3 separate regions of the Homo sapiens genome follow, and all the other regions are linked to region 2. Evidence: fine-mapped QTL for protein levels in blood plasma. A gene starts in region 2. Each other region holds a variant in brackets. All regions are shown on one strand. Distances are between the middles of the regions.

Region 1 (2,850 bases), 43 kb before region 2:
AACAAAACGAACCAAACCATGAAGCTAAGGAGGAGGATAATTTCACTTTCTGAGGAATTCTCAAGAGCAGGCATCTTAATGGTGTGTCATTTATGTGTCAAAAAGAAAAATGGTGTCACTCAAATTTGTCCCTCTTATTCCTATTTTCTATAAGAGTTGATACTGAAACTAAGTCAGGAGCAGGGGGCTTCCCATTATTTTCTGAAGGTTCCAAGGCCTGGGCTCTGTTTCCTCTATCTCTTTTTGGCCCTCTGAATCCTGCAGGCAACTCAGACCACTAAGCCCTTTCTCTCCATTCCTGTGTACAGGGGGGCAAGACCTTAATTACAAACCACACATTCATATATTCTCATAGAGTATGGTTGCTAATAATCTAAATCCTAGTGGTTTATTTCACCCTGGAAGTTCTAATGGCTTTGGGGAGTGGATTCTTGGTATTTTGATTTTTTTTTGGTATAACTGTTTATGTATATGTGTTCACACATATCTATTTGAGTGACCATATGGTTCCTTAAGTACTTAGTGATTGTCATCTTCAGATAAAGCCCCAGCACTTTAACATGCCTGGAATCCTCTTTCCCTTATTCTTTGTCTGGTTGACACTTCCTCTCTTTATGGGTTCAGCTCAGCATTAATCATTTACAGCAAATGTCTGAGGCCCCAGAATGTATACAGGGCTCTCATCTCTCCTCCTGAATCACTTAGCATATTATAATAAAATTATTCACTGATTCATTGGTTCAGCAAATATTTATTGAGCACCTACACTTATTAACCTAGCACTATAAGCTCCAACAGGTCAGGCTTCTCTGCTAAAAAATAGACCTCCATAAATATTTGTTCAACTAAAATAGATATATATTATTTTTAGTTTTAGGGGAAAGGCTTAATTGGTTGCGATGAATGTAATTGCTGTTAGAGAAGCAGTGTGATGTGAAAGAGAGAGAAAAAAAGACCTTACTGGAGTTACAATCAGAATAACTTGTTATAGGTGCTGGCTAAGAGCCTACCTTTCACAGTCAAAATACCTAGATTGAAATCCTGGCTCTTTTGTTTGCTGGCTTTGTGGCATCCAGCAAATTATCCACTCTCCTTGTGTCTCATACGTAAGATGGAGGTCATGACAATACCTAATCTACAAGGTTATTGAGAGAGTTATATGAGGAAGAGAGTGTGTTGTAAATTTTGCAGTGACATATTTATAAAATCAGGTTTTTTTTTTCTTTGAGACGGAGTCTCGCTCTATTGCCCAGGCTGGAATGCAGTGGCGTGATCTCTGCTCATTGCAACCTCTACCTCCTGGGTTCAAGCGATTCTCCTGCCTCAGCCTCCCGAGTAGCTGGGACTACAGGCGTGTGCCACCACACTCAGCTAATTTTCATATTTTTAGTAGAGACGGGGTTTCACCATGTTGACCAGGCTGGTCTTGAGCTCCTGACCTCAGGTCACCTGCCCCCTTCAGCCTCCCCAAGTGCTGGGATTACAGCGTGAGCCACTGTGCTCTGCCTATTTGTTTAGGTTTTTAAGTTTCTCAGTTTGATCCTTGATCCTGCTCCTCAAACTTTAATGTATATACAAATCACCTGAGGATCTGGTTC[G/A]GCTGCAGTTTTTGATTTAGTAGGTCTGAGGTGGGGCCTGAGATTCTGCATTTCTAATGAGCTCCCAGGAAATGCTAATGCTGTGCTCCACAGGCCACTATTTGGTCTGGCCTAGAGTCATAGTTTTCAAATCGTACTGTGCATCAGCTTTTCCTGGAGGGCTTGTTTAAACATGATTGCTGGGCCTCTCACCTGAAGTTTCTGCTTCAGCAGGTGGAGGATGAGGCTGAGAATTTGCATTTTTTTCTTTTTCCTTTTCTTCTTTAATTCTTCCAAAAAAAAAAACCGTAATACATGTGCAGAACGTGCAGGTTTGTTACAAAGGTATACTGTGCCATGGTGGTTTGCTGCACCTGTTGACCTGTCCTCGAAGTTCCCTCCCCTCATCCCCCATCCCCCAGCAGGCCCTGGTGTGTGTTGTTTCCCTCTCTGTGTCCATGTGTTCTCAATGTTCAGCTCCCACTTATGAGTGAGAACATGCAGTGTTGGTTTTGTTTTGTTTTTTTTAGACAGAGTCTCGGTCTGTCACCCAGGCTGGAGTGCAGTGGTATGATCTCAGCTCACTGCAATCTCTGCCTCCCAGGTTCAAGTGATGCTTCTGTCTCAGCCTCCCAAGTAGCTGGGACTACAGACGCCTGCCACTACACCCAGCTAATTTTTGCATTTTTAGTAGAGATGGGGTTTCGCCATGTTGGCCAGGCTGGTCTCGGACTCCTGACCTCAAGTGATCTGCCTGCCTCTGCCTCCCAAAGTGCTGGGATTACAGGCATGAGCCACCAACCCAGCCTCATGGTTTTCTGTTCCTGTGTTAGTTTGCCAAGGATGATGGCTTCCAGCTTCATCCATGTCCCTGCAAAGGACATGATCTCCTTCCTTTTTATGGCCGCACAGCTGAGAATTTGCATTTCTAACAAGCTCTTATGTGATGCTAATGCTGCTGATCTAGAAACCTCATCCTTTGAGAACCACTGATCTAGAAAGATTGTTTTACTCGGAGAGTAAATTACTTTGCTATGCTTCAGAAAACAGGAATTGGGACTTAAGACTTGGATTCTGCCTCTTAGATTATAGTTCTGGTGCCTAAGCACATTTAATACTATTTTTTAACAATGATGGGCACTGATGTGTTTCTATGGGCTTTGCATTGTCGAGGTCTGCCACAACTGTAGTAACAATTTAACCCTATCCTCAGACCCCTATAAAGATTACCCTGAGAACTAATGAGATTTTATTTATTTATTATTTATTTATT
Region 2 (2,801 bases):
AATACAAGTTATCTTTTAAAACAACCCACATACACAAAACCCCCAACTAGAGTAATTGCACAAAGCTTAGATTATCAAAAAGAAGAAAAAAATTACTGGAAAAGTTTTGAAGAAGTCATTGAGTACAAGATACTGACGTAGGTGCCGGAAGAAGAGAGCAGTTGGCCGTGCTGGTGGAATAACCCTCTCTGCAAAGGGCCTGGGAGTTGAAGAAGGGTGCAGTCGGGTGGTGGTTATGAATCTCAGAAATCCTGCCACGGAGCCTCCTTTTGTGCCCTATTACTTAACCTTGAGGGACATAGAGAGCATGAGACACCAAGGGGCTTTTGGTTGCCTTACTGTCCCACTAAGAACATAGAATGTTGTTTTGACTTTCCCTTTGCTTAGGGAACCTCCCCCAGATACTCAGCTGGCTGGCTGCTTGCACGTAGAATGGGTTTTGCAAAGTTCCTAGAAGTGAGTTGGAGGAGGCTTGACATAAATCAAGCACTGTGTGCTAAATGCTCCAGAGGGCTACCTTATGTCCTACACAAATGTTACATTTCTAATATTTGTAACTCCTTTAAACGTTTATGCAGATGTTTCCCAATTCCTCAGTAGAATTCTTACCATTATCTTTTTGACACAACCTGTCCCCATCCTATGAAAATCTCTCCTCTGCTAGAGACTTTATTCTTTCTTTCTCTCTCTCCCCCTTCCTTCCTTCCCTCCCTCCCTCTTTCTTTCTTTCCATCTTTCTTTCTTTCTTTCTTTCTTTCTTTCTTTCTTTCTTTCTTTCTTTCTTTCTTTCTCTTTCTTTCTTTCTTTTCTTTCTTTCTTTCTTTCTCTTTCTCTCTCTTTCTTTCTTCCTTTCTTTTTTCTCTCTCCCCTTCCTTCCTTCTTTCCTTCTTTTCTTTTCTTTTCTTTTCTTTTCTTTCTCTCTTTCTTTCTGTCTTTCTTTTCTCATTCTGTTGCCCTGGCTGGAGTGCAGTGGCATGATCTCGGCTCATAGCAGCCTCCACCTCCTGGGTTCAAGCGATTCTCCTGCCTTAGCCTCCCTAGTAGCTGGGATTACAGGTACCCACCATGATGCCTGGCTAATTTTTTGTATTTTCAATGGAGACGGGGTTTCACCATGTTGGCCAGGCTCGTCTTGACCTCCTGGCCTCAAATGATCCACCCACTTTGGCCTCCCAAATTGCTGGCATTACAGGCGTGAGCCACTGCACCCGGCCTGTTCCTTCTTAAGAACACTTTGTCTCCCCTTTAATCTCTGCTGGATTTCAAGCACCCCTTTTACACAACTCTTGATATCCATCAATAAAGAATAATTCCCATAAGCCCATCATGTAGTGACCGACTATTTTTCAGTGACAAAAAAAAAGTCTTTAAAAATAGAAGTAAAAGTCTAAAGTCATCAAAACAACGTTATATCCTGTGTGAAATGCTGCAGTCAGGATGCCTTGTGGTTTGAGTGCCTTGATCATGTGCCCTAAGGGGATGGTGGCGGTGGTGGTGGCCGTGGATGACGGAGACTCTCAGGCCTTGGCAGGTGCGTCTTTCAGTTCCCCTCACACTTCGGGTTCCTCGGGGAGGAGGGGCTGGAACCCTAGCCCATCGTCAGGACAAAGATGCTCAGGCTGCTCTTGGCTCTCAACTTATTCCCTTCAATTCAAGTAACAGGTAAACAATGTTAATGTCTTTCTTTCTGTAAATATTTTTTGAGGTCTTCCAATTGGCTTAGTTTATTTTAAATTTCTAACAATGTGTGAAATTTGAACATTTGAAGTGTAGTTTTGCTGTAATAGGGCAATGTGTTATTTTGAAAATCATTGATTCTCAGACTACAATATAGTATCTTAACAAAAGTCCCTTGGAAATAAATTTTCTAAGCTATTAGTTTCTCTAGCTATTAGTTGATAGTGTCCCAAGAATTTATTATTATTATTATTATTTTAAATTGAGATGGGGTTTCACTATGTTGCCCAGGCTGGTCTCAAACTTCTGAGCTCAAGCAATCCACCTGCCTCTGCCTCCCAAAGTGCTAGGGTTACAGGCATGAGCTACCATGCCCGGCCAATAATTTTTAATTTATGTATCGTTTCTTTCTTTCTTTCTTTTTTTTTTTAATTTAAGAAAGCTGCTGTAAGTAGATTGGCTCTGGAAGCTCTGAATTTAGGTTGCCTATGTTCCTAACACAGGTCCAATTCTCACTAGGTAAGCTTAGGCTTAGCTATTATTTAAACTCTCCAAACCTCAGTTTCCTTAACTGTAAAGTGGGAATAATAATAAACCTCACCTCAAGGTCATTGTGAGGTAAAATGAAATAATCCATGCGAAGGGCTTAGCTCAGTCAGGCTTCAAGATAAATGTGAACTGTAATTACTCTATCTACCTGAATTGAATGAGTTCCAACATGAATTCTGGAGTCACCACAGAAGCTGCTACAACACCAATATTAATAAATTAGTTTTCTTTTACAATCGGCCAAAATGTATTTTCTTAGATTAAAATTCTTTAAGTTCCCAATGACGATGATGAGGAGGATAATACATCTAGCACTTTGAGCAGCACACAGTTCTCGTAACTAGAAGGTAGGTATTACAGTTAACTTCATTTCAGATGAAGAGACTGAGGGGTAGGCACATTAAGGGATTTGCCCAAGGATGTACAGGTGGCAGCTATAGGAGGCAGGGTCTGAACCACCTTAGTCTGACTCCAGTGCCGGTGTTGTTGATTATTATGCTATTCCATCTAACATGGTGTGATTTGTAATTTCATGGACTCAGGTAAATCCAGGGTTAAATTAACTTCGGAAAATC
Region 3 (2,500 bases), 900 kb before region 2:
ATTTATTGGTCACCTACTATGTGCTATGGAGTTTCTCAATATTACCTCTATCCCTAATGTCCCTGGTAAGATAGGCATAAATAACTCCTATTTCAGATGAGACAACTGAGAGAGCCATAAATGATGTTTTAAAAAGCCAGGATCCAAACTCAGATTTTTCTGTTTTCAAAGCCTGTACTCTTCCTTACCACAGTGGTTCAAATATATGTCGACTGTATATATAACATGTATTTATTTTTTAAAGATAACACAAATTTCAGTATGAGGGAAAACTCAAAACTTAATCATGCAACCCTATAAACTGGACTTTTGCGTTTAAAAGCACCTATCTTTGGGGAGAGGAGGCAGGGCAAGCTGGCTTAATAGAACTCTCCAGCCATCATTTCCCCCCTGTACCCCACAGGAACAACAAATTGAACAATTATCCATACAAGAAAGAACCTTCATAACAACCAAACATCGGGTGAGAGATCACAGTACCTGGTTTTAACTACGTATCACTGAAAGAGGCACTGAAGAAGATAGGAAAGACAGTCTTGAATTGCCAACACCACCATTCCACCATCTCTTGGCAGTGGCCACATGGTGTGGAGAGAGAATCTGTACTTGTGGGAGGGAGAGTGCAGTGATTGTGGGACTTTGCATTAGAACTCAGTGCTGCCTGCCACAGCTGAAAGCAACATGGGGCAGAATTCAGCCAGTACTCACAGAGGGGGCAGTTAGACCAGCCCCAGCCAGAGGGGAACCACCCATCCCACTGGTCAGAATCTGAGTTCCAGCAAGCCCCACCATGGCAAGCTAAAGCACTCTGGGGTTCCAAATAAACTTGAAAGGCAGTCTAGGCCACAAGTACTGCAATTCCTGGGCAAGCCCTGGTGTTGTGCTGGGCTTGGAGCCAGTGGAGTTAGGGTACATGTGACCTAGTGAGATACCAGCCAGCCAGCCAGCCAAGGAAGTGCTTACATCACCCCTCCTCCAATCCCAGGCAGTGCAGCTTACAGCTCCAGGAGAAACTCCTTTCTGCTTGAGGAGAGGAGAAAGGAGAGTAAAGGGGACTTTGTCTTGCAACTTGGATACCAGCTCAGCCACAGTAGGATAGGGGACAAGGTAGAGTCCCAAGGCCCTCATTCCAAGCCCTAGCTCCCAGATCACATTTTTAGACATACCCAGGGCCAGAAGGGAATGCACTGCCCT[A/C]AAGGGAAGGACCCAGTCCTGGAAGGATTTATCATCTGATGACTAAGAGACCCTGGGCCCTGAATAAACATCAGCAGCACCCAGGCAGTACTCACCATGGGACTTGGGTAAGACCCAGGGCTGTGCCGGCTTCAGGTGTGACCCAGTGCATTCTAAGCTATGGTGCCCACAGGGAGAGACTTCCTCTGCCTGAGGTAAGGAGAGGAAAGAGTAAAGGAACTTTTTATTGCAGCTTGGGCACCAGCTTGGCCACAGTGGGGTAGAGAACCAAGAAGTCACCTGGGGTAGTCAGTTCTAGCCCTTGGCTTCTGGATGGCATTTCTGGACCTGCCCTGGGCTAAAGGGGAGCCCACTACCTTGAAGGGAGAGTCCTAAAAATGGCAGCATTCACCACAAGCTGACTGAAGAGCCTTTGGGCCTTGGGTGAGTATCAGCGATAGCCAGGCAGTACCTGCTGCAGGGAGAGACTCCTTCCGCATGAGGAAAAAAGAGGGAAGAGTGGGAAGGATTTTGTCTTACAGCTTGGGTGCCAGCTCAGCTGGTGTAGAATCGAGAACCAAGTAGATTCCTAAGGTTCCTGACTCTAGGCCCTGGCTCCCAGATGGCATTCTGGGATCTGCTCTAGGCTGGGGAGTAGCTTGCCACCCTGAAGAGAACGACACAAGCCAGGCTGGATTTGTTTCCTGCTGATGGTAGAGCCCTTGGGCCTTGAGTGAATATTGGCAGTAGCCAGGCAGTGGTAACAGGAGGCCCAGGCTGAGACCCAGTATTTTGCTGGCTTTGGAGAAACTCCATGTGTTTGGGGGGAAGTAAGGGAAAAGAACAAGAGTCTCTGCCTGGGTAATACAGGGAATTCTCCCAGATCTTACCCAAGACCACCACGGCAGTATCTCTACAATTGTGCAAGAGCCACAGCATTACTGGGCTTGGGGTGCCCCTGCCAATGCAGATACAGCTACAATGACCAAAGATTTAGATGACAACAACTCAATGTTCTTTGAATACTTGGAAAACTTTCCCAAGAAGGACAGGTACAAACAAGCCCAGACTACAAAGACTATAATAAATACGTAACTCTTCAATGCCCAGACATTAACAAACATCCACAAGCATCAAGACCATACAGGAAAGCATGACCTCACCAAACAAACTAAATAGTGTACTAGTGACCAATCCTGAAGTGACAGAGATATGTGACCTTTCAGAGAGAGAATTCAAAATAGCTGTTTTGAGGAAGCTCAGCGAAATTCAAGATAACACAGAGAAGGAATTCAGAATCCTATCAGGTAAACTTAACAAAGAGGTT

Alleles and levels. Positions count from the first base shown, and alleles are read on the strand shown. Strength reflects both the effect of a copy and how common the allele is.
As copies of G replace A in region 1, the plasma level of the protein whose gene starts at base 1,553 in region 2 goes down (weak association).
As copies of A replace C in region 3, the plasma level of the protein whose gene starts at base 1,553 in region 2 goes up (weak association).

Evidence for each region. A credible set is the group of variants that fine-mapping cannot tell apart. PIP is the chance, under the fine-mapping model, that this variant and not a neighbour inherited with it causes the effect. Protein levels are from antibody-based Olink assays in UK Biobank. Linkage for the fine-mapping came from a reference panel and not from the study's own genotypes, which makes the PIPs less certain.
Region 1: its variant is the best candidate, but not a certain one, in a credible set for the plasma level of the CD28 protein (UK Biobank, PIP 0.58).
Region 3: its variant is the best candidate, but not a certain one, in a credible set for the plasma level of the CD28 protein (UK Biobank, PIP 0.79).

The regions. Positions count from the first base shown.
Region 1 is chr2:203,662,507-203,665,356 of GRCh38, forward strand. No RefSeq gene overlaps it. Among named protein-coding and RNA genes, the nearest start is that of CD28, 43 kb to the right of the region's middle. The variant G/A (reference allele first, on the strand shown) is at 1,599.
Region 2 is chr2:203,705,087-203,707,887 of GRCh38, forward strand. It overlaps CD28 (CD28 molecule), which reads left to right and starts at 1,553. Exons shown (of 4, transcript NM_006139.4): 1 at 1,553-1,662. The coding sequence starts at 1,611. RefSeq lists an enhancer at 1,433-1,582.
Region 3 is chr2:202,806,697-202,809,196 of GRCh38, forward strand. All of the region lies in intron 9 of ICA1L (islet cell autoantigen 1 like), which reads right to left. Among named protein-coding and RNA genes, the nearest start is that of ICA1L, 64 kb to the right of the region's middle. The variant A/C (reference allele first, on the strand shown) is at 1,195.